7 linked regions of the Homo sapiens genome follow. The protein of the gene in region 1 purifies or fractionates together with the protein of each later gene. This does not show direct contact. Each region holds a gene or a part of one and is shown in the gene's direction. Other genes may lie near its edges. The genes, in order: MSMB, CSTA, TSEN15, DNPEP, SEMA6A, CHST3 and PLAT.

What was found.
Region 2: the proteins of MSMB (region 1) and CSTA purify together in Homo sapiens (affinity purification with mass spectrometry, with the first as the bait; one large-scale study listed by BioGRID). This does not show direct contact.
Region 3: the proteins of MSMB (region 1) and TSEN15 purify together in Homo sapiens (affinity purification with mass spectrometry; one large-scale study listed by BioGRID and IntAct). This does not show direct contact.
Region 4: the proteins of MSMB (region 1) and DNPEP purify together in Homo sapiens (affinity purification with mass spectrometry; one large-scale study listed by BioGRID and IntAct). This does not show direct contact.
Region 5: the proteins of MSMB (region 1) and SEMA6A purify together in Homo sapiens (affinity purification with mass spectrometry; one large-scale study listed by BioGRID and IntAct). This does not show direct contact.
Region 6: the proteins of MSMB (region 1) and CHST3 purify together in Homo sapiens (affinity purification with mass spectrometry; one large-scale study listed by BioGRID and IntAct). This does not show direct contact.
Region 7: the proteins of MSMB (region 1) and PLAT purify together in Homo sapiens (affinity purification with mass spectrometry; one large-scale study listed by BioGRID and IntAct). This does not show direct contact.

What each region holds. Positions count from the first base shown.
Region 1 is NC_000010.11:46,032,813-46,036,269, reverse strand, and holds the end of MSMB (beta-microseminoprotein isoform a precursor), read left to right. Parts: intron 1-420; exon of another isoform or gene 421-877; intron 878-2,718; coding exon 2,719-2,848; 3' UTR 2,849-2,957; downstream 2,958-3,457.
Region 2 is NC_000003.12:122,338,748-122,342,247, forward strand, and holds the end of CSTA (cystatin-A), read left to right. Parts: intron 1-2,691; coding exon 2,692-2,820; 3' UTR 2,821-3,222; downstream 3,223-3,500. UniProt on the Homo sapiens protein: This is an intracellular thiol proteinase inhibitor. Has an important role in desmosome-mediated cell-cell adhesion in the lower levels of the epidermis.
Region 3 is NC_000001.11:184,054,730-184,058,229, forward strand, and holds part of TSEN15 (tRNA-splicing endonuclease subunit Sen15), read left to right. Parts: coding exon 1-134; intron 135-3,431; exon of another isoform or gene 3,432-3,500. UniProt on the Homo sapiens protein: Non-catalytic subunit of the tRNA-splicing endonuclease complex, a complex responsible for identification and cleavage of the splice sites in pre-tRNA. It cleaves pre-tRNA at the 5' and 3' splice sites to release the intron.
Region 4 is NC_000002.12:219,374,728-219,377,912, reverse strand, and holds part of DNPEP (aspartyl aminopeptidase), read left to right. Parts: intron 1-2,890; coding exon 2,891-3,058; intron 3,059-3,185.
Region 5 is NC_000005.10:116,568,324-116,571,823, reverse strand, and holds part of SEMA6A (semaphorin-6A isoform 2 precursor), read left to right. Parts: intron 1-3,500. UniProt on the Homo sapiens protein: Cell surface receptor for PLXNA2 that plays an important role in cell-cell signaling. Required for normal granule cell migration in the developing cerebellum.
Region 6 is NC_000010.11:71,967,395-71,970,894, forward strand, and holds part of CHST3 (carbohydrate sulfotransferase 3), read left to right. Parts: intron 1-3,159; exon of another isoform or gene 3,160-3,320; intron 3,321-3,500. UniProt on the Homo sapiens protein: Sulfotransferase that utilizes 3'-phospho-5'-adenylyl sulfate (PAPS) as sulfonate donor to catalyze the transfer of sulfate to position 6 of the N-acetylgalactosamine (GalNAc) residue of chondroitin.
Region 7 is NC_000008.11:42,187,066-42,190,565, reverse strand, and holds part of PLAT (tissue-type plasminogen activator isoform 1 preproprotein), read left to right. Parts: intron 1-1,494; coding exon 1,495-1,632; intron 1,633-2,549; coding exon 2,550-2,660; intron 2,661-2,993; coding exon 2,994-3,168; intron 3,169-3,500. UniProt on the Homo sapiens protein: Converts the abundant, but inactive, zymogen plasminogen to plasmin by hydrolyzing a single Arg-Val bond in plasminogen.

The sequences.
Region 1 (3,457 bases):
ACCCACTGCACCCTCTATGGGACGCTGCCCAGATCTCAAGGTGCTCGGTGGCAGTGGAGCCTGAGGCTGGGGGCCCAGGCAGAGGCTCCCAGGTAGGGCATGGGAGATGTCCTGGGCTCCACGCTGCCCGGGCCCAGGGCTGGCTCCCTGACTTGGGTGAGGAAAAGGGAGTGGGAGACAAAAGGCCAAGGTCATCCAGCCACTGACTCTGGTTAGCTGAATACCCGATGTTGACAGTTTCTCCCTCCCTCTCTCTCTCTGCTGTTTCCTCTATAGAGCTAAGTCTGGTTTGCATTGAAATAAGCATGCAGTAATATGCCTTTTGCCTTACCAACTTGTATTTGCACACAGGCAGCACAGATTCACCATTTCACTTCCTACCATGAACTAAAAGAATTGTATCTCTTCAACAAACACCACTTTATTTTTAACCTTTTTTTTTTATTGTGGTAAAATGTATACTACATAAAATGTGCCAGTGTAACCATTTTAAAACATACAATTCAGCGGCATTAAGTACATTCACAGTACTATGCAACCATAAACACTATTTCCAAATCTTTTTAATGACTCCAATCTGAAACTCTATATCCATTAAACAATAACTCAGATTCCCTGTCCCCCAAACCTGTGGTAATCTCAAGTCTACTTTCTGTCTCTATGAATTTGCCTACTCTAGATATTTCACATAAATACAATCACACTGTGTTTGTCTTTTCGTGTCTGGCTTATTTCACTCAGCATGTTGTCAAGGTTCATTCATGTTGTAGCATGTATCAGTACTTCATTCTTGTTTCTGCCAGAATAATATTCCATGGCATGGTCATACCACATTTTGCTTATCCATTTATTTGTTGAACACTTGAGTTGCTTCTGCCTGTTGGATAAAGTAAGTAATGTTGTTCTGAACATTGGCATACAGTGTTTGTCAATATACAAACATTGGCATATAATGTTTGAGTCCCTGCTTTCAATTCTTTTGGGATATATACCCAGGAGTAGCTTTCTGGGTCATATGGTAATTTTTTGTTTAACTTATTGAGGAGCTGCCAAGCTGTTTTCCACAGCAGCTGCACCATTTTACATTCCTACCAGCCAGCAATCACCTTTAAACATGAAAAACATGAAAGGTTTTAAATGATATTTCCCAATTTTCTAAGTAAACATATGAATTATAGAATCATTGGGAAGCATAAGAGAAAAAAGAAGAAATACCTACTCATAATCCCAACTGTGTAAAGGTAATAACTATTAACATTCTATTTTTATTTATTTATTTATTTGTATTAAAAAAATTAAGACAGGGTCTCACTATGTTGCCCAAGCTGGTCTCAAACTCCTGGGATCAAGCTGTTGTCTCACCTCAGCCCCAAGTAGCTGGGATTACAGGCATGTGCCACCATGCCTGGGCTTCTATCATCATTTATTTTCTTTTTTTTTTTTTTGAGATGGAATCTTGCTCTGTCGCCCAGGATGGAGTGCAGTGGTGTGATCTCTGCTCACTGCAAGCTCCGCCTCCTGGGTTCACGCCATTCTCCTGTCTCAGCCTCCTGAGTAGCTGGGACTACAGGCGCCTGCAACCACGCCCGGCTAATTTTTTGTATTTTTAGTGGAGACGGGGTTTCACCGGTTTAGCCAGGATGGTCTCGATCTCCTGACCTCGTGATCCGCCCGCCTCGGCCTCCCAAGGTGCTGGGATTACAGGCGTGAGACACAGCGCCCGGCCCTATCATCATTTCTTTATGTCTCTTTTCTATATGTTTTTTCTTTTACATAGTGGATATCAAATTTTATATCACAGTTTTGTGGGCTGATTTTTCCACTTAATATTCTAGCACTGGGCTGGGCATGGTGTCTCACGCCTGTAATCCCAGCACTTTGGGAGGACAAGGTGGGTGGATCATTTGAGGTCAGGAGTTCGAGACCTGCCTGGCCAACATGGTGAGACCTCCCCCGCGCCGACCCGCCATCTCTACTAAAAATATAAAAATTAGCTGGGTGTAGTGGTGTGCTCCTGTAATCCCAGCTACTCAAGAGGCTGAGGCAGGAGAATCGCTTAAACCTGGGAGACGGAGGCTGAAGTGAGCTGAGATCGTGCCACTGCACTCCATCCTGGGTGACAGAGTGAAATTCATCTCAAAAAATTAAAGTAATAATAGTAATAATACATAAATATTCTAGCATTAGTATCATCTCATCTCATCAGAACTCTTCAAAATATTTGTATGTACTGCAGCTCAATTAGAGGTGGTCTCTGACTTTCATCAGCTTCTCCCTGGGCTCCATGACACTGGCCTGGAGTGACTCATTGCTCTGGTTGGTTGAGAGAGCTCCTTTGCCAACAGGCCTCCAAGTCAGGGCTGGGATTTGTTTCCTTTCCACATTCTAGCAACAATATGCTGGCCACTTCCTGAACAGGGAGGGTGGGAGGAGCCAGCATGGAACAAGCTGCCACTTTCTAGAGTAGCCAGACTTGCCCCTGGGCCTGTCAGCACCTACTGATGACCTTCTGTGCCTGCAGGATGGAATGTAGGGGTGAGCTGTGTGACTCTATGGTACAGACTGGTCCAGGTTCCTGGAGGTCACACTCTGGGGCTGCCAGCCAAAGGGTGCCCTTAAGTTGGAGTGTGGGTGACTTCCTGAACAGAGCTGGCACTGGGGAGGGGGTGCTCGGGGTCCTTTCTCTTCTAACAGGCCCCAGTTTTGTCTCAATGACAGTGTTTCTACACCTGTGGGTTATGACAAAGACAACTGCCAAAGAATCTTCAAGAAGGAGGACTGCAAGTATATCGTGGTGGAGAAGAAGGACCCAAAAAAGACCTGTTCTGTCAGTGAATGGATAATCTAATGTGCTTCTAGTAGGCACAGGGCTCCCAGGCCAGGCCTCATTCTCCTCTGGCCTCTAATAGTCAATGATTGTGTAGCCATGCCTATCAGTAAAAAGATTTTTGAGCAAACACTTGAATATGTGTGTCCTTTTAATTTATAATTTATGTATGCATTGATTTAATACACATTATAAAGAATACAAAACATTTAAAAAGGGAGACAAAACTACATATGAATGGCCGGGCACAGTGGCTCATGCCTATAATCCCAGCACTTTGGGAGGCCAAGGCAGGCGGATCATTTGAGGTCAGGGGATCGAGAACAGCCTGGCCAACATAGTGAAACCCCGTCTCCACTGAAATACAAAATTAGCGTGGTGGCAGGCACCTGTAGTCCCAGCTACTCGGGAGGCTGAGGCAGGAGAATCACTTGAACCCGGGAGGCGGAGGTTGCAGTGAGCCAAGATCACATCAGTGCACTCCAGCCTGGGTGACAGAGTGAGACTCCGTCTCAAAAAACAAGCAAACAAACAAACAAACCCAAACCCAAACAAAACAAAACAAAACAAAATACATATGAATAAAAGTTCTATTTTTCCTAAACTCTATAATAGGTCATTGTGCATCCC
Region 2 (3,500 bases), on another chromosome or scaffold:
ATTATGTGCAAAGATAGGAAACATTCCATCAACATTAACATATTTAATAATTTATGATTAATTCAAATGCATAAATTTCACATATTACCAGCTCACATGTTTCTTCAACAGTTCATCAGATAACTATCTTGAAAATTTCTGCTTGAAAATTTGTTCCCTTGACCACCCTTTTGCCCTCTCTTAATCAGTCTCCTCTCTCTCTCTCATCTTTTCTTCCTTCTGCTATCAAACTTTTCCTACTGGATCTCAGCCACCGATCCCAGTTCCCTTTTACTTCCTGGTAGTCTGGCTGTTGATCCCTTTGCTCTGAGGCACTCTAGATTTAAGGTCTTGCCAGTGATGTGACCTTCTCTATGTATTTCAAGTACCTATCAAGAGGTAGGTGGTAGAATGGAAGGACCACAAGCTTAGGTGTCAGAGTGTCCTGGGTTTGAACCCTTGTTCAATTTGTTCTATGGGAAGCTCCTCCTCCTCTCTGAGCCTTCATTCCCTTATCTGCACAATGAGGGTAATAATCTACTTCGCAGCGTGTTGTGAGGAATAAATAAGCTGGAAATTTATTGAGCACTTATAATTCACTATGCACTATTCTAAGAACAGGGCTTATCTCATTTAATCCTCACAACAAATCTATGAGATAAGTACAATCACTTCTCTTGGGTTACCAACGAAAAAACTGAGTTCCAGGGTGGTGAAGAAACTAAAAAGATCACACAACTACAAGAGCAGAGTCAGGATTTGAACCCAGATAGACTGAGCTTAACTACTGGCTGTGCTGCCTCTAATATAAAGCACAAAATAAGAGCTTTTACAAGGTTACACTGGCCTGGTGTGGTGGCTTATACCTGTAATCCGAACACTTTGGGAGGCCAAGGTGGGAGGATAGCTTGAAGCCAGGAGTTTGAGATCATTCTGGGCAACATAGCAAGACCCTGCCTCTACAAAGAAAATGTTTTAATTACCTAGGCATGGTGATGCACACCAGTAGTCCTAGCTACTTGGGAAGCTGAGGTAGGAGGATCACTTGAGCCGAGGAGTTTGAGGTTGCAGTGAGCTGCGATCGCACCACTGCACTGTGAGCCAGGCCTCATTCCCCGATCAGTACCCCCCAAAAATGTTACATTGTAGAGTGAAAAGAATGTAGATGCTAGAGGCTAACAGATCTGGGTTTGAATATTGGCTGTGCCACTGACTAGCTGAGAGATTTATGGAAAATCACTTAATCTCTCCTACTCTGCTTCCACGTCTGTAAAAATTTCATTGCTCCACTTTTCTTCAGGCCTATAATATAGGTTAATATAATCATTTATATAAAATGTTCATCATAGTGTCTGGCTCACAGTAAACATTTGATATATGGCATTTGTTAAAATTAGGATAGGAAGTGACATCAGAAGCACAATAAATATTTGTATAAGACAAAGCATTTATTGTCTCCAGCAAGAACCAAAGTAAAAATTCTTACCATAATTTTCCAGGTCTCAGATTCATGTCCAAACTACTGCTTCTGCTTCAACCTTCCTACCAATGACTTCCTAGTAAAACCCCTTAGCTTTTTTTTTTCTTTTCTTTTTTGAGACGGAGTTTCACTCTGTCACTCAGGCTGGAGTGCAGTGGCACAATCTCGGCTCTCTGCGACCTCCACCTCCCGGATTCAAGCGATTCTCCTGCTTCAGCCTCCCAAGTAGCTGGGATTACAGATGTGCACCACCACACCCAGCTAATTTTGTATTTTTAGTAGAGACCAGATTTCACCATGTTGGCCAGGTTTGTCTCAAACTCCTGACCTCAGGTGATCCACCCACCTTGGCCTCCCAAAGTGCTGGGATTATAGGCGTGAGCCACAGTGCCCGGCTGGCCCCTTCACTTTAGAAGGGAGGGTGTCCGCCCCCTGGGCTCTGCTCAATCCTACCAGTGGGTGTTTATAAAGTAGGTTCTGATATAGGTATGGGAACCCTGCATCCCAAATTTTCTAGGGCAATTCTGATTTTCTTCTCCCTTATCAGACTGTATGGCAAACAAAGTGTCCCAAGTTGAGAGTCAGAAAACAGTATCACCAAAAATATAGGCTATCACTTGTTTTCTTGCTCCATGCATCTTTGAAAATAAAATGCTGTCCTTTGTGCCCAGATTATACTAAAAAAAATAACAAAATAAACCTAGGACCTATGCCTCTTGCCATGCCATTAGTCTACAATTTTTTTTTTTTTTTAAGACAAACTCTTGCTCTATCACCCAGGCTGGAGTACAGTGGCATGATCTCGGCTCACTGCAACCTTCTCCTCCTGGGTTCAAGTGATTCTCCTGCCTCAGCCTCTAGAGTAGCTGGGATTACAGGCATGCACCACCATGCCCGGCTAATTTTTTGTATTTTTAGTAGAGACGGGATTTCACCATGCTGGCCAGGCTTGTCTTGAACTCCTGACCTCGTGATCCCCCTGCCTCAGCCTCCCAAAGTGCTAGGATTACAGGTGGGAGCCACGGCACCCAGCCTAGTCTGCTCTTTTTCTCCTAAAATAAGGTGGTGGATTTATGAATACAAAGAGTCTAAGAATGGTGGACTAGGTCTAGCAATGCTGTTCCTCAGCAGCTTTTTGGACAGAAGTCTTTGTAGACCTGTGGCTCTCTCACTTGATGTAGACCCATTTGAATGAATCTCCTTTTGCTTTCTCTTTCTTTAATATTTTTCAGGTACGAGCAGGTGATAATAAATATATGCACTTGAAAGTATTCAAAAGTCTTCCCGGACAAAATGAGGACTTGGTACTTACTGGATACCAGGTTGACAAAAACAAGGATGACGAGCTGACGGGCTTTTAGCAGCATGTACCCAAAGTGTTCTGATTCCTTCAACTGGCTACTGAGTCATGATCCTTGCTGATAAATATAACCATCAATAAAGAAGCATTCTTTTCCAAAGAAATTATTTCTTCAATTATTTCTCATTTATTGTATTAAGCAGAAATTACCTTTTCTTTCTCAAAATCAGTGTTATTGCTTTAGAGTATAAACTCCATATAAATTGATGGCAATTGGAAATCTTATAAAAACTAGTCAAGCCTAATGCAACTGGCTAAAGGATAGTACCACCCTCACCCCCACCATAGGCAGGCTGGATCGTGGACTATCAATTCACCAGCCTCCTTGTTCCCTGTGGCTGCTGATAACCCAACATTCCATCTCTACCCTCATACTTCAAAATTAAATCAAGTATTTTACAAAGTGTGTGTGTGTGTGTGTGTGTGTATATATATACTTTTTTTTTTTTTTTTTTTTTGAGACAGAGTCTCGTTCTGTCACCCAGGCTAGAGTGCAATGGTGTGATCTCGGCTCACTGCAACCTCCACCTCCCAGGTTTAAGCGATTCTCCCATCTCAGCCTCCCAAGTAGCTGGGATTACAGGCACCTACCACTGCGCCTAGCTAATTTTTGTATTTTTAGTAGAGACAGGGTTTTGCCATGTTGGCCAGGCTGGTTTCGAACTCCTGACCCTAGGTGAT
Region 3 (3,500 bases), on another chromosome or scaffold:
AAAAGCTGGCATGAAGTAAACTGTGTAGGATTACCAGAACTCCAGCTCATCTGCCTTGTTGGTACTGAGATAGAAGGGGAGGGGTTACAGACTGTGGTGCCTACCCCCATCACTGCTTCCCTCAGCCATAACAGGTGAGCAGGTGATTTTGGTCTAAGTTCCTTTCCCGAGTAAAGCAGTAGGAAACATTAAACATAGTGATGTAATACTTTTAATGAAATTTGGGATACAGGGTTCATAGCTTTACTCTTGGCTATTTGAGGAATAAGTTAAATATGAGTGTTGTATTCGGCCATTCTTGCATTGCTATAAAGAAATACCTGAGACTGAGTAATTTCTTAAAAAAAAAAGAAGAGGTTTAAGTGGCTCATAGTTCTGAAGGCTTTACAGTAAGCATGGTGCTGGCATCTACTCGGCTTCTAGGGAGGCCTCAGGAAGCTTATAATCATGGAGGAAGTTCGTGAAGCAAGAGCAGGCACATCATATGGCAAAAGCAGGAGTGAGAGAGAGTGTTGAGGGGGAGGTTCCACACACTTTTAAATGACCAGATCTCACGAGAACTCATTGTCCTGAAGACAGCACTCAGCCATGAAGGATTTACCCCTATAACCCAAACATCTCCCACCAGGCCCCACCTCCAACATTGGGGATTACAGTTCAACATGGGATTTGGGCAGGAACAAATATACAAAGTATATCAAGCATTCAACAAGTATTTATTTAGCACTTACTCTATGGTCAGTACTTTTTCAGAGACAGTATGTATGGTAGAAATATTTATATTCTTGGTAAGGAAGCAAGACCATTACATATGAAATAACAGCTGTTATAAGATGTACCATGTAATACAAATTATACTTTATATAGCAGTTGGTGAAAAGCATGATTAACATGCAAGCTGAAATCAAATTTTCATGTAGCTTTTTTTAAAAGCTTTAAAAAAGAGACTTTTTTTAGGACCTTTTTTTAAAAAGCTTAGGTACACAGCATTGGATTAAACATGTCTTTGTTTCATGACATACTCTCATTATTAGTTCATGCTTGGTTTTTATTTATTTACTTAGTTATTTTTAATAATGTAATAAGTATCTCTGTACCCATCACCCAAAGCAAAACTAGATTCTTGATAATAACTAACATCTAATCTTATAAGTCCCTTCCTTAACGTGCTTTCACTGACCTGAGGTAACTCATTCTGAATTCCATGTACATTGGGAATTTTTAAATTTTAGATGTTTTTAACTTTAATTAAAAAATCTTATCTTTTAAGGCTGACCTTATACACTTAATATTATATTACTAAAATTCATCCATTCTTGTGCATTTTTTGAGCTGCCACATAACATTCCATTGTGTGATTATACCACCATTTTTACATCCACTCCCTCGATGATGGAGTGTTGCTAATGTTTAACTTTAGGAGATAATTTCAAACTATTTTCAAAGTGGTTGCCTCAATTTACTTTTCACCTGCAGTGTAAATAAGATCCTTTGGAGCTGTATTGTCTCTCACATTTAGTATTGTCAGACTTTTAAATTTTTGCCAATGGAATGGATTATTCTTATTTTGGTCTTAATTTACATTTCCCTTATTACTCATAATACTGAATATTTCTTTATATATGTATTATTTATAAGAAATATCTGTTCATATCTTTTGCCTGTTGGGTTGTTTTTAGTTTTCTCATTGACTTGTATGAATTCTTTATATATTCTTGACCTAATAGTTTTTTTATTGTGTTTTCCAGTTTTTAAGTCTGTCTTTCACTGTCTTAAGATGTCTTTCAATGAGTAACAGTTCTTAATTTGAATATAATCATATTTATCCATCTTTTATAATCAACGTCTTTGTGTCTAGTTTAAGAAATATTTTCTATCTAACGGTCTAAAAAATACTTATATTTTCACTAAGAGTTCTATTGTTCTTGTTTTTAATGGTGTGAGAGGCGGTTAGGGATACCATTGTCATGTGGATAACCACTTTTTCTACCTCCATTTACTGAATAGTCCCTCCTTTCCTCACTATCTGACATATCACTTCTGCTACTTTCCAAAGTTCCAAACATGCATTAATTTGTTTCTGGGTTCTCTATTATATTCCATTAGCCAGTTTATCTGTCCTTTTGCCAATACCATATCTCTTAATCGCTTGCTTGGTAAGAAGTCTTGGTATCTGGTTAGCAAGCCTCCCTTATGCATTTCTTCTTTAGAAGCTGTAGCAGGCAGCTTCTAAGATGGCTTCTCCTAATTCTGGTATTCACTCCCTTATGTAACTCTCTTCCCTTGAGTGTGACCTGGACTCAGTGACTTCTTTCTAATGAATAAAATTTGGCAAAAATGATAGGAATGTAACTTCTAAGATTAGGTTACAAAAGACTGTGGCTTCTATCTTGGGCACTCTCTCTTGCTTACTATAAAGGAAGCCAGCTGCCACGTGAGCTGTCCTACAGAAAGTCTGAAAATAGAAAAGAGATGACAATTATTGATGGAGCAAGATTCTTGAGAGATGAGGAAGGATGGATTCAAGAGGATAGTGGAGGAGAGTAATATTGAGCATGTAAAGGGGTGCTGTAAACCTCTGAGAGTGGGGTATGGGAAGAATGAACAAATGAAAACACAGCTCTATTTGGGTGGCATATAAGTAGGGAAAAGAGCAGAGCCTCTTAAATTCCAGCATGAATACCGTTGATGAATACTTAACATTTTTTCTAGCTGACTATGACTGAATACATAGCAGTCTAGTAGAAAGAGCCCCAGACTATAAAGTCTTAAGACCTGGGTTCTAGTCTTGGGACTGACACTTAACATTTTGTTTGATGTTTAGCAACACACCTAATTTCTCTGGGTTTCAGTTTCCTCGTCTTATTTTGTTGTTGAGGGATTTAGATTACCAGTACATGCAAGATCCCTTCTAAATTAAAGCTGCTGTAACTGGTTATTTTCATTGTGCATATTTCATAAAGCCATATTAAACTAAATTTGCAGATTTCTATGAAGTATTTTTTGTATTTATTATTCATAATGAGAATTGTTTTTTAATATGTCAGTCTATTCATATGCTTCTTTGAGAAGCTCCTTACTGTTTTCTCTGTGTTTGAGAATTACAAATAGTTGTTAGCATTGACATCAGATTTAATCGCTAGTACTTTCCGGTTTTTACTAGCATGATTTCCAAGCCATCCTATATCCAAGAGTCTTAATTCATTCCTCAGAACTCATTACTTCTGTCTTTTAATTACTGTAACAAATATTGTCCTAGCTAGTATTAATGTTATATTATTTGTTTGGACAAGGAGCTACTATTTGAAATTAACCTGCATTTATTCCTAAAAAATAAAATTAATGAAAGCAATAGCCTATTTTAATCAAAATCATTTCATAAGTCTAGAAGTACAAATTTGTTTCCATTGTTAATTTCTAGTATTTTCCAGGTGGTAATTAATGCTTTTCTAGCTTGAATGGCTAAAGCTTGTTTTCTTCTTCAAGTAGAATTAGTTGGA
Region 4 (3,185 bases), on another chromosome or scaffold:
CTTGCTTTGTCTCCCAGGCTGGAGTGCAGTGGCATGATCATAGCTCACTGCACCCTCAAACTCCTGAGCTCAGAAGATCTTCCTGCCTCAGTCTCCCAAGTAGCTGGGACTACAGATGCATGCCACCATGCTGGCTAATTTTCTATTTTTAGTAAAAATGGGGTTCTTGCTATGTTGCCCAGGCTGGTCTTGAACTCCTGGCTTCAAGCAGTCCTCCCACCTTGGCCTCCCAAAGTGCTAGGATTACAGGCATGAGCCACCATTCCCAACCCCATTTCAGGAAATTGTTGTTTCAGTAAACTTGTACCTCATCTAATGCACAGATCACTTTCCGTTTTCCCCAGTTATCCTCAAAATATTTTTTTTACAGGTATTTGGCCCACCCTAGTATCCAACTCAGGACAATGCGTTATATTTGGCTGATATGTTGCTTAAATGTCTTCCAGTGTAGCACAGTTCCCCCCACCCCTTTTTAAATAGCATTGGCTTATTCAAGAAACTTCTGGATATGTCTCCTTGCTGCCCCATGGTGTCATTTAGCTTGTCTGTAAGCCCCGTATTTCCTATCAACTGGAATTTCTAAAGACTTGATGGATTCAAGTTAAACTTTTTTTTTTTTTTTTTTTTTTTTTTTTGACAGAGTGAGAGTTTCACTCTGTCGCCCAGGCTGGAGTCTAATGGCGTGATCTCGGCTCATTGCAACCTCCGCCTCCCTGGTTCAAGTGATCCTTCTGTCTCAGCCTCCAAAGTAGCTGGGATTACAAGTGTGCACCACGATGCCCAGCTAATTTTTGTATTTTTAGTAGAGACAGGGTTTCACCATATTGGCCAGACTGGTCTTGAACTCCTGACCTCAAGTGGTCCGCCCACCTCAGCCTCCCAAAGTGCTGGGATTACAGGTGTGAGCCACCGTGCCTAGCCTCAAGTTAAACATTTTGGGCTAGAAGACATGGCTGGTGTATTCATATGGCATCACACACATGATATCTGGGTGGGCCACCCTTAGCCTTGCAAAGATTGACCACTGGACCAGGAATGGCCTCTTATCCTTTCATTATATAGTGCTTTTCCCCTATTGACCTGACAGTGACCCATACAAGTGATGAGTTCCCTATTAACCAGATACCTAATGGTTTTAACACTTACAATAATCCTTGTCTAAATCAGTAATTTCATTAGAATTTACCGAAAAATGCCCGCTTCCCCTGAATTCTTTCAGTCTTCCATTCTTCTGTGAAGTGGAACTTCTTCCCTCCAATCAACTAGGGTTCTTTGGTTATCATGGAATATCATTCCTATTGATTGGAAAGCAGGATAAATGCTAATTCTTTCTGTTATCCACTTTTCAAGGTGAAATGTCGTCTCAAATAGTGACAAAGAAAGATTTTTCCTTTTCCTTTTTTTTTCTTTTTCTTTTTTTTTTTTTAGACAGGGTCTCGCTCTGTTGCCCAGGCTGGAGTGTAGTGTCGCAATCTCAGCTCACTGCAACCTCCTCCCCACAGGTGCAAGAGAGTCTCATACCTCAGCCACCTGAGTAGCTGGGATTACAGGCATGCACCACCATGCCCGGCTGTTTCTTGTATTTTTAATAGATACAGGGTTTCACCATGTTGGCCAGGCTGGTCTTGAACTCCTGGAATCATGTGATCTGCACACCTTGGCCTCCCAAAGTGCTGGGATTACAGGCGTGAGCCAGCACACCTGGCCTGCTTTTCCCTTTCTGACTATCTTAGAATCATGGAATTTCATTTATTCAGTGTCCTCTATAATTATTATATTTGATTTGTGAATTGCCATGGCTTTGACCAGTGGGAGCCCCTTCAGCATAACTCCTGTGCCCTTTGACTCTTGGAAGTCTCCTTGCTTTTTGGCACAACAAAAATTGTAGACATGTCTTGTTCATTTCGCCCCCCAGACTTGGTAGTTTTTGGCAAGCAGTGGTATTAGAGACCATAGCCTGGCACTGCAAGTGTTCATTGTTCTTGGGGGAGGGGACGGTGCTTTGGGTCCATTTCCATGGACATAGCAAGAAAAAAGTACATATTTTAAAAATCATGAAGCCAGGTGTGGTAGCTCAGGCCTGTAATCCCAGCACTTTGAGAGGTAGTGGATCACTTGAAGTCAGAAGTTCGAGAACAGCCTGGCCAATATGGCAAAATCTCGTCTCTACTGAAAATACAATAATTAGCTGAACGTGGTGGTGCGTGCCTGTAATCCCAGCTACTTGGGAGGCTGAGACAGGAGAATCGCTTGAACCCAGGAGGCAGAGGTTGCAGCGAGCTGAGATTGCGCCACTGCACTCCAGCCTGGGCATCGCAGGGAGACTCCATCTCAAAATAAATAAATAAAATAAAATAAAAATTTTTAAATAAAAATCATGAGTTAATACTGTAATTCTTATTCATAAAATTATTCTTATTTAGTTAAATAGTTACTACCTATTTGATTTTGTAATTCTGTTTTCTCTTACACTGAAAACCTTGATATCTAGCATCATATTTTCATTTTCTTATTTTTTTACCATAATATAAAGAAAATCATTTCAAAATGTCAGTAGCAATATTTTTAAAGACACTGATACCACTGAGTGATTTTTTTCTGTGAGTGTGGATATTAAGCAAGAGGGTGACAAGGATGGATACTTTTAAAAATCCCCCTTCCTGCTGTGTGGAGAATGGATTGGAACTAGGGTGGTGGCAATGCAGATAGAATGGGACCAATTCAGAATATATTGTCCTTTGGGGTCTGCCATTTAGCATTGGCTTTGATTTTATGCTCCGAATGGACCATCTCCCAGGCCCCTTCCCACCCTGCAATTCTAAGATGGCGTCCTCCTTGGCTCTGATAAGCACACACTGCATGTTGCTCATGGGTCTCCTGCTCTCCCTAGGATCTCATGGTCCGGAATGACACCCCCTGTGGAACCACCATTGGACCTATCTTGGCTTCTCGGCTGGGGCTGCGGGTGCTGGATTTAGGCAGCCCCCAACTGGCCATGCACTCTATCCGGGAGATGGCCTGCACCACAGGAGTCCTCCAGACCCTCACCCTCTTCAAGGTAACACCCACCCCAGACCCTCTCTGGCAGCTGGGCTGCTTCCCCTCTAGTGCCTGGATTGGTTGCTGGGACAACATCGCCATCACAAAGTGACTGGCCTGAGTAATGGGGGCTGGTTGTCATGCTG
Region 5 (3,500 bases), on another chromosome or scaffold:
TTAATGCTGTGTTTAGTCTACATGGAGCAGTTTTATGATTTACAGTAAGCTTTGATTAAACTACTCCAGGCACCAAAGTTAATTATTAACCTAACCTTAAATACAGTGGCAGAACTATGTCTCCACCTATTAACCTAAACTATCTATTAAAAAATAATTGCACTAGCTATTTGAATTTGGTTTACCCATGCTTGTTTGTATGGTAACTTTTATTTGAATCTTGAGTAACCCTTACTCCCTGTTATTATTTTGGTTTTGGGACGTTCTTGAATGAGGCACTTTGCAAACCAGTTTAAAGCAGAAAAGAACGAACATCAAATTTAAAATCTTACTTTTGGTTATGAGTCATTTTTCAACTTGATGTAAAGAAGCATTCTACTTTATGTTTCTGATGTACAGTGTTTGTGGGTGACAACCTTCCCCATATGTTAGGTTTTGCAGCTATCACCTTTTAGAGATGTGCTACATTTTCAATAACGCATATAATCCACATATGTAAATGTTAAGCAGATACCGAAAATCATTTCTGAGGAGCCATCAGCTGAATATACTTATTGGACATAACAACTAAGCTTAAATAGGTAAAAATTTTATAAGAACCAGTATAGAACACTCAAGTAAATGTCGAATGAATGAAATAAATAGTCACACATGGTTCATGTTTGTCCACTTAAAGTGGACTTCTTTATTTTCCCTACAGTGAAAAAAAAAATATATGCCTTCAAGTGAGTGGTTATGATAAGGCGGCAATAAGTGCACCTTTTTATTTACACACAACACACACCCCTCAAGTTCTTCCAAAATCTAGTAAATGCTTTTTCCAACATTAAACACATATAGCAGTTGTATTTTGAGTAGGCGGGTAACATTGCACTAGTGAAGTCTAATGTGTTGAATCAGAAGTGTAGCAAGAATTAGGAAGACTGTTATCTTCACCAAATAAAAATGAGGCATCCAAATTAAGAACTTGTATTAAATTCAAAATAAGTAGTTATGCTTTAAAAGTAAATGGGTAGTTGCACTCCTATATGAAATGGAAGGAAAAATACTATTTTGAACCAGGAGTTAAGTCAGATAGTTTATTCTGTGTACATTGTGGTTCAGCGCTTTTCAGAACAGGACAAAAGAGTGATGATGGGATGAAAGTTTTTTTAGAACTAGATTGCCAAGAGCTAATATAGTCTCTCCATCTTATTTGTTTGCAGGAAGGAATCACAGAACAAGCTAAGCTAATTGCAAATGCTTTAATTAAGCATCTGCCATTTGTGTAAGGCAATGCCTAGGAAAGCCTATCTCTGCACTGCCCCTCTCCACACCCTTCTTTAGGTTTAGACAATTTTCTGTCCTCCTAGAGTAGAGGAGTGCTCCTTGACATATTTATATAGAAGCTTTGTGTTATGGCAGCCACATTTGTGCATGTTGAGGAAGGTGATGCCTTGAGGCGTTCTGCTGGGCCCTCCCATATCAGGAACCCCCCCCACTCTCTTGGGGTGCCTTGGAGCCAAGTTTTCTCTGAGATATTTCTATTTCAGCGTGAAGGCTTTTCTCATCTGCTTTAAAATGTGCTGCAAGAGCAACTGAGCTATTCTCTGCTGGCGACCACATGGTTGCCTCTTGGGGATATGGTAAGATAGAGAAAGGAGGGAGGCATTTAATCCCTTCGAAATGGGCAAATGAGATGTCATACCACACAAACCTCAAGGGGAGGAGTTCAGGACAACTTCTCACCATGGGACTACTGCATATAGTCTATACACAAGGGTATCTTGCTTTGTGAAACAGATGAGCTCTTGCAAAACTTTATTACAATAATTCCATTTACACCAATAGAGGGTATCATATAAAACCATAATACACAGATGATTCCCAAATAACCTCTTCAGCTTAGACCTCTCTCCTGGACCTCACAAATAACCAATGCTTAGTGGGTAGGTAGCTCCTCCTGAATAGACATCTCAAACTTAGGTTTAAAAAACCTAATTCTGTATCTTTCTCCCCCATATCTGCCTTTCTCATAGTCTTCTCCATCATAGTAAATGGCAACTCCATTCTTTGAGTTGCCGGCCCCCAAATTTAGTTCTCCTTGAAGCTTCTCTGTCACACCTACATCCATTGTGGCTGCAATGCTGTTGGCTCCACCTTTGGAATACCTGCAGGCTTCCTTCAGGTGTTCCTCCTCTGTGGCCCTCAAATTGGCCAAGCCATGGTCCTCTCCTGCTAGGTTTTCATGCCAGCTTCCCCACTAGCATTCCTGCCTCTGCCCATTTCTCAACACAGCAGCCAAAACACAGCAGTGATTTTTTTTTTAAACTAAACCAGATCAGATCACTACTTTGCTCAGATGTTTTCCCATCTTCTTCCAATAAAAGCCAAAGTCCTTCCTATGGCCTTTGCAGCCCCACATGATCTGCACTCAGGTTCCAACCTCTCTGACCTCCACCCCTTGGGCTTGCTTGAATCTGTCAAGCATGGCATATACTTGGGGTCCTTTGCAAGGACTTACTCTTTCATGCCTTGGGATGGTTCTTTCCCCAGATAGCTACATGATTTGCTTCTCATATTCTTCAGGTCTCTGTTCAAATGTCACTTTCTCAGTGAAGCCTTTTGATCCCCTTATTTACTTTACTCTTTCCCACAGCACTCCCCACCTCTTGGCAGTCCTTATTTTTTTCTTAGCATTTTTCACAGTCTGACAAACTATATGTTGTCCTTGTTGATTTTCTGTCTTCCACTAGAACATAATGCCATAAGGATAGACATTTTTAGGCTTTATTCACTCTGGCACCTAAAGCTGTGCCTGGCACATCATGGGCCATCCATAACAAGTGTTTGCTGAATGAATAAACAGTGAATCATTTTTGCAAACAACTAGTCTTTATTTTATCTATTTTGTCTGCCTTTGTTTTTCTATATCATGTTTTTATCAAATGAGATACTTCATGCATGCATGTGTGTGTGTGTACTTCATGCATGAATGTGTGTGTGTGTGTGTGTGTGTGTGTACAATCTTCCAAGCACATAGGTGGTATGGCTCATGCATCATTAGTGGAACATTCACTGTGTTGTTTTTCCAGTGGTAGTGATGGATTGGAGCCTGTTCATTCCCACATTCTCACCCAGTCCCCTCCTGTGTCCAAGAGCACACATCTGTGAGACACCTGGTTGTAGCTGGAGGGAGTCTGAGTTAGGTAAAATCAACTTGCCAAGAAACAGAGCTAAGAAGACAGCCAGCATTTGTGGGGATTGAGCTTTTGACCCTGGCCTCATTTGTTCTGCATTCTAACCACTGGCCATAGAACGTTCATGTTTTTTTGGAGTTTGCTAATAGTAGTTTTAAAATTCAACTTTCTATCAGGAGAATACAGCATACTTTATTAACCCATGTTTCTGCCCTGTACCCGTACAGTATATCTGCTGTTGAGGATCCTGCACTTGGAGACAAGAAGACCTGAGTTCCAGACTCTCACTACCTTGGACAAGTCACTTAACTTCTCTGTGGC
Region 6 (3,500 bases), about 26 Mb from region 1:
AGCTCCCACTTCTAAGTGAGAGCATGGGGCACTTGATTTTCTGTTCCTGTGTTAGTTTGCTTAGGATAATAGCCGCTAACTCCATCCATGTTGCTGCAAAGGACATGATCTCATTCTCTTTTATGGCTACATAGTATTTCATGGTATATATGTACCACATTTCTTTATCTGGTCTACCGTTGATGGGCATTTAGGTTGATTTCATGTTTTTGCTATTGTGACTAGTGCTATGATAAACATACGTGTGCATGTATCTTTATGGTAGAACAATTTATATTATTTTGGGTATGTACCCAATAATGGGATTGCTTGGTAGAATGGTAATCCTACTTTGAGTTCTTTGAGAACTCTCCAAACTGCTTTCCACAATGGCTGAACTAATTTACATACCCATCAGCAGTGTATAAGCACTCTGTTTTTTGTTTTTTGTTTTTGGTGGGAGTGGTGGGATGGAGTCTTGCTCTGTCACCAGGCTGGAGTACAGTGGTGCGATCTTGGCTCACTGCAACTTCCACCTCCCAGGTTCAAGCAATTCCCCTGCCTCAGCCCCCTGATAGGCGTGCACCACCATGCGTGGCTAATTTTTTTTTTTTTTTGTATTTTAGTAGAGACGAGGTTTCACCATGTTGGCCAGAATGGTCTCGATCTCCTGACCTCGTGATCTGCTCACCTCAGCCCCGCAAAATGCTGGGATTACAGGCATGAGCCGCCTCGCTTGGCCAGCACTCCCTTTTCTCCACAACCTGGCCAGCATCTGTTAATGTTTGACTTTTTAATAATAGCTATTCTGACTGGTATGAGATGGTATCTCATTGTGGTTTTGATTTGCATTTTTCTAATGATTAGTGATGTTGACCGTTTTTTCATATGTTTGTTGGACACATGTATGTCTTCTTTTGAAAAGTATCTGTTTGTGTCCTTTGCCCACTTTTTAATGGGGTTGTTTTTTGCTTGTTAACTTGTTCAAGTTCCTTATAGATTCTGGATATTAGACTTTTGTCGGATGCATAGTTTGCAAATATTTTCTCCTGTTCTGTAGGTTGTCTGTTTACTCTGTTGATAGTTTCTTTTGCTGTGCAGAGGCTCTTTAGTTTAATTAGGTCCCATTTGTCAATTTTTGTTTTTGCTGCAATTGCAAAGCCAGTATTTGAACCCAGATTGTCTAACTCCAGAACCCACCCTGTCTCCACCATGCCAGGCTGTCTGCAAGGCCCTTATTGGTTCTCCATGGCAACAGGGAAACAGCCCTGATGCTTCTTACTAACGTGGTCCCAGGGCCTCTGCTTGCATTCTTCTTTTTCCATACACTCTGCCGAGCCTGGATATACCTTAGGCTGTGGGAATCAAAGGCTGGGTGGTACCAGGCTGCTGGAGCCTTCTGTGTGGCTCTGGAGTCAGAAAACTGTGGAGATTTTGGGGGGGCACACAGGGAGATGTTGCAGTAATTCCAGTGAGACATGACTCACTGCTTATCTGAGAAGTTGGGACAAAGCTGCCTCTTGTGACCATACCGTGAATAGGGAAGAAATTGCCAGGTAGACCAAACATCCTCAAATGGGTTACTGTATTTTTTTCCCCTTTTTGGTCCTCTCCAGGGTAATCTATTACCTGGGGAAATCAGCCTTCACCTGACACCTCCTATTGTCATTTACCTGGTGAACATAAGGGGCCATGTCACAGCTGTCCTTCCCACCCCTGCCACGTGTTCTGGAGAGCTGGACTCCTCAGCAGCACCTGGTCCACAGGAGAGAAGAATGGGGCAGAGCCGGAGCAGCCAGGGGAGGTGATAACCACACGCTCATCTGGTCCCCAGCTCTTGCTTTTACATCCACGCCCCACAGGGAGACAGCAATTATCTGTTGGCCCCACTTTACAGATGAGGACATGAGGCTCAGAGAGGTGCAGTGGATGCCCAAGGTCACGAAGCCAGGCATCTGCAAAGGCCTGGGACAGCCACGTTTTCAGTCGGGGTGGTATTTTCTATCCCCGGCCCCAAGGGCTGAGAGTGGTTATCCCTGCTGGGGCAGGGTCCTCACTGCTCCACCCACCCTCATCTCTGCCCTGAGAGCCCCCAGTACAGATGTCCATAGAACGGGAAAGGCTGGCGCCCTTCAAAGGACGCAAAGAGCATTGGATGAGCACTGCCCAGCTGATCCCTGCCCACCTTCCACAGGAAGCCCACCTGGGTGAGTTCTTAGAGCCTTCCTAGTGCTGAGCTGCAAAGAAACTGGAGCCCTCTCCCCCTCCACTGCAGAGGGGACACAGTGACCAGGACGGAAGTTGGGGGACTGGGTGTGGGGAGAAGCCACCCCACTGCAGGGGCCGGGGCTGTCCATCTTTGTACCCCTGGTTCCATCCCAGTGCCTGAGGCATGGGAAGTTCTTGGAAATGTAGTCAGATGCTGGGTGAAGCCCCAGGAGGGGCCGTGAATGCTTCTGCTGGGAACTCCTAGAGTGGCGGCACAGAGAGGGTCTTTGCTGCGAAGGAACACTCAGAGAGTCTCTGGCTTTCGTGAGGTTATGCCTCAGGAGAGGAGACACTTCTCCTTTTCATTCGTTAAACAGAAATGATATTTGCCACCTTTTCTTCTCTAAGGCCTAAAGAGATGACAGAATGCTGCTGGTCCTACCCTGAGCGCGTGGACTCCACAGCGGGGTGTGGGGTGGCCCCTGGCAGGCCTGGACGGTTTGTTCTGTGCTTGCCGGTGGACACGCTTCAGCCCTCTGTCTCTATTGCCCCAAATCTGGCCTGTGGCTGCTGGGCCGCCACCAGCTTGGAGGGCAGGGTGGGCCCCGGGAGCCCCTGACCACCAGTGACTTCTTGTCTCCAGCTGCCCTCCGTCCTCTTGATCCCCCTCACCCCCCACCACCTCCTCACAAAGATGGCTGTGTGCTGAGGGACTGTGGCTTCCCTGGGCCCTAGGAAATTTATCACTGAGGTTTCAGAGGACTCTATGAAAAGGATTTGGAGAAAAAGTGTGGAAAATAAACAAGCCAGTTCCCAGTTCAGCCTCTCCTGAATGCCGCAAGTAAACAACCACCTCGGAGGCCAGCCCGGGATGTTCTTATTTGGCCTCTGTGGTTACACCTGCCCCCTCCCCGCCCAGTCCCTCCTCCTTAACTTTAAGAGCCTCAAAAGTCAGGGAACACACCCTCCGCTGGCCAGTCCTTGTGCTGCAGGGACGCTGGTGGCTGGGCACAGGAGGAACATGTATATGGGAGAGAAGACGGCCGGGGGTCCCAGCTCAGCCCTGCTCCCTCTGAGTCAGTCCCAAGCCTGGACCCTCCCCAGCAGGCAGACGGTGACGTCTTGGTTGGTTGGTGAGTTTAACTTTGATGGTGCAGAATGATGAGACTTTTCTCCATTTTGTGGCATCTGAGAAGCTTTGCTTCTTAAACATTGCTTTAGGGTGGATAGACCAAAGCTAATTTTCCCGTTATGTCTCTCCAAGACGGGGCCTACCTGTGAGCAAACCCTCATAGATTCATTTACTTTGTAGG
Region 7 (3,500 bases), on another chromosome or scaffold:
GGCCTCAGTGACCTCAGAAGCAGCAAGGGTCTGACTTACAGTGGGCACGTGCTACTTCTTTAATTAATTGAAAGTAAAGTTGTTGTTTTTTAAGTTGGCATTCTGGCTTGAAAACAGAAAGATGGCATGAAAATATTAATGGGAGTACTTCAACTATTTTCATTATGCCAAAAATACTTGGAGAAGTAGCACATTTTCTGCAAAGTCTAAAATGTCAATTTTCTTTGGGGCCAAAAATGCATCATTTCTGTGTGGTAATACTTATGTGGATAAAAAACTCTGGTAGACAGTTATGCATATATATATTTTTTGGTGAATTACAATGAGAAAAAGTCCAGGTGCAATGGCTCACATCTGTAACTCCAGCACTTTAGGAGGCGGATCCAGGAGGATGGCTTTAGCCCAGGAGTTCAAGACCAGCATGGGCAACATAGTGAGACACCTCTGCCTCCCCCACCCCACCCCGCCTCTACAAAAAAATTTAAAAATTAGCTGGGTGTGGTGGTGTGCACCTGTAGTCCCAGCTACTTGGGAGGTTGACGCAGGAGGACTGCTTGAGCCTGGGAGGCAGAGGTTGCAGTGAGCCAAGACAGCACCATTGGACTCCAGCCTGGGTGACAGAGACCCTCGAAAAAAAAAAAGAAAAAGAAAAGAAAAGAAAAAATTAGGCTGGGCACGGTGGCTCATGCCTGTAACCCCAGCACTTTGGGAGACCGAGGTGGGTGGATCACTTGAGATCAGGAGTTCGAGACCAGCCTGTCCAATATGGTGAAACCCCGTCCCTACCAAAAATACAAAAATTAGCCGGGCATGGTATCGGGCACCTGTAATCCCAGCTACTCGGGAGGCTGAGGCAGGAGAATCACTTGAACCCAGGAGGTGGAGGTTGCAGTGAGCCGAGATTGTGCCACTTCACTCCAGCCTGGGCGACAGAGTGAGACTTTGTTTCAAAAATAATAATAATAAATAAATAATAAATAAATAAATCATATGAGAAGATACTCAATGGCACTCAGAAAAGAAATGCAAATTTATTTTATTTTATTTTGAGATGGAGTCTTGCTCTGTCGCCCAGGCTGGAGTGCAGTGGTACAATCTCGGCTCACTGCAACCCCCACTTCCTGGGTTCAAGCAATACTCCTGCCTCAGCCTCCTGAGTAGCTGGGATTACAGGCACCTGCCACCATGCCTGGCTCATTTTTGTATTTTTAGTAGAGATAGGGTTTCACCATGTTGGCCAGGCTGGTCTCGAACTCCTGAGCTCAAGTGATTCACCCACCTCGGCCACCCAAAGTGCTGGGATTACCAGCATCAGTCACCGTGTTTGGCCAGTATTCATTATCTTGTTGTCTTCCAGTTGTGTCTCTTCAATAAGGGAGTATGCAATGGAGTCTATAGAAAGCAAGTGAGGGAGTTTTCTCAGTAGGTGCAAGGGTAGTGAGGCATTTCATTTTGAGTCATACTCTGATGAGGCTGGCCTGTCTTTTCTCATAGTGATCTGCAGAGATGAAAAAACGCAGATGATATACCAGCAACATCAGTCATGGCTGCGCCCTGTGCTCAGAAGCAACCGGGTGGAATATTGCTGGTGCAACAGTGGCAGGGCACAGTGCCACTCAGTGCCTGTCAAAAGTATGTACTGAGGCTGGGAGGTGGTGCATGCCTGTGATCCCAGCACTTTAGGAGGCCAAGGTGGGAGGGTCGCTGGAGCCCGGGAGTTCAAGACCAATCTGGGCAAACATAGCAAGTCCCCTGTCTCTACAAAAAATAAAAAAATTAGCCAGACCTGGTATGTAGTCCCAACTACTTGGGAGGTTGAGGCAGAAGGATCACTTGAGCCCAGGAGTTGGAGGCTGCAGTAATCTACGATTGTGCCACTGCATTTCAACCTCAGTGACAGGGCAAGCCCTCACCTCTAAAACAAAACAAAACAACACAAACAAAAACAAAAACACAGAAAAGCCCAGTACAAATCGACTTCAAACTGAGACTTCGAGTTCAGGGGTCCAGTCATGAACCCTGTCTTTCATGGTCCCCGGAAAGTTCAAATCTTCAAAAGGAGCCTCCAGGCCTGTTCGGCCTTAGGCGGAGGTGAAGGTACAAGCAGAAAAGGGAGCAAGACCAAGTGACCTTGGGCAAATGCCCGCTTGCCTCAGTTTCCTCATCTATAAAGAGGTGGGAATAACAGTACACACTTCATGGTTTGCTGTGAGGATTAAATTAGCTAATTTTTGTAGACTGTACAACAGCGCCTGGCACATAGAGCACATTCTTAATATTTTAACTCACATCATCCTTGGAGCTGCTTTGAAAATACAGGGGACCCTTGAACAACACTTGTCTGACCTGCAGGGTCCACTTATGTATGGATTTTTTTCAACCAAAGGCAGGATGAAAACAGTATTTGTAGGATGCAGAACTGGTATACGCGTGTTCCACGCTGCAGGACTTGAGTGTGTGTGGATTGTGGTAGACAGGGCTCCTGGAACCATGGCCTGAGCACACAGAAGGAGGCTGTCATTAGGGGCTTCCTTTTTTATACTTGACAGGTTGCAGCGAGCCAAGGTGTTTCAACGGGGGCACCTGCCAGCAGGCCCTGTACTTCTCAGATTTCGTGTGCCAGTGCCCCGAAGGATTTGCTGGGAAGTGCTGTGAAATAGGTGAGTAGGTGAGAGCACGTGAAACGAGCTGAAATCCCACCTCTCCAGTCTCCCCCGCCCCCGGAAGGAAAGGCAGGGTGCGATGGCAGGGCCAGGGGTGGGGGCCAGGGACAGGGAAGGCGCTTCTGCCATGGGTCAGGAAGCACAGTGCCACACAGCAAGCAGAGCCTAGGTGTGACCCTGAATCCAGGCTGGCACCCTTGCCACCCAGCCTGTGGCTTCCGAGCCAGCCTGCATCAGGCCTGGGGGAGGACGGGGCAGAGAGGGGAGCCTCCTGAGGGCTGAATGAAAGGGGACTCCCATGTGAGGCATCCATGCCCTGCTCTCTGTCAGATACCAGGGCCACGTGCTACGAGGACCAGGGCATCAGCTACAGGGGCACGTGGAGCACAGCGGAGAGTGGCGCCGAGTGCACCAACTGGAACAGCAGCGCGTTGGCCCAGAAGCCCTACAGCGGGCGGAGGCCAGACGCCATCAGGCTGGGCCTGGGGAACCACAACTACTGCAGGTGAGGGCACATCCCCAAGGAGGGATTCCCCCTGTGAGAAGCTGCTACAGCTGGGGAAAGATTCTGTCAGATCCGTCAGGGTTCTCCCAAGAAACATAACCAATACAGGATGGATAGATGGATAGATGATAGACAGATAATAGATGATAGGTGATAGATGATAGATTGATAGATGATAGATGATAGGTGATAGATTAGATAAATAGATGATACATACATGATAGATAGATGATAAATAGACGGTAGATGGATGACAGATAGACAGATGATAGGTGATAGATAGATGATAGATTGATAGATGATTGATAGATAAATAGATGATAGATACATAG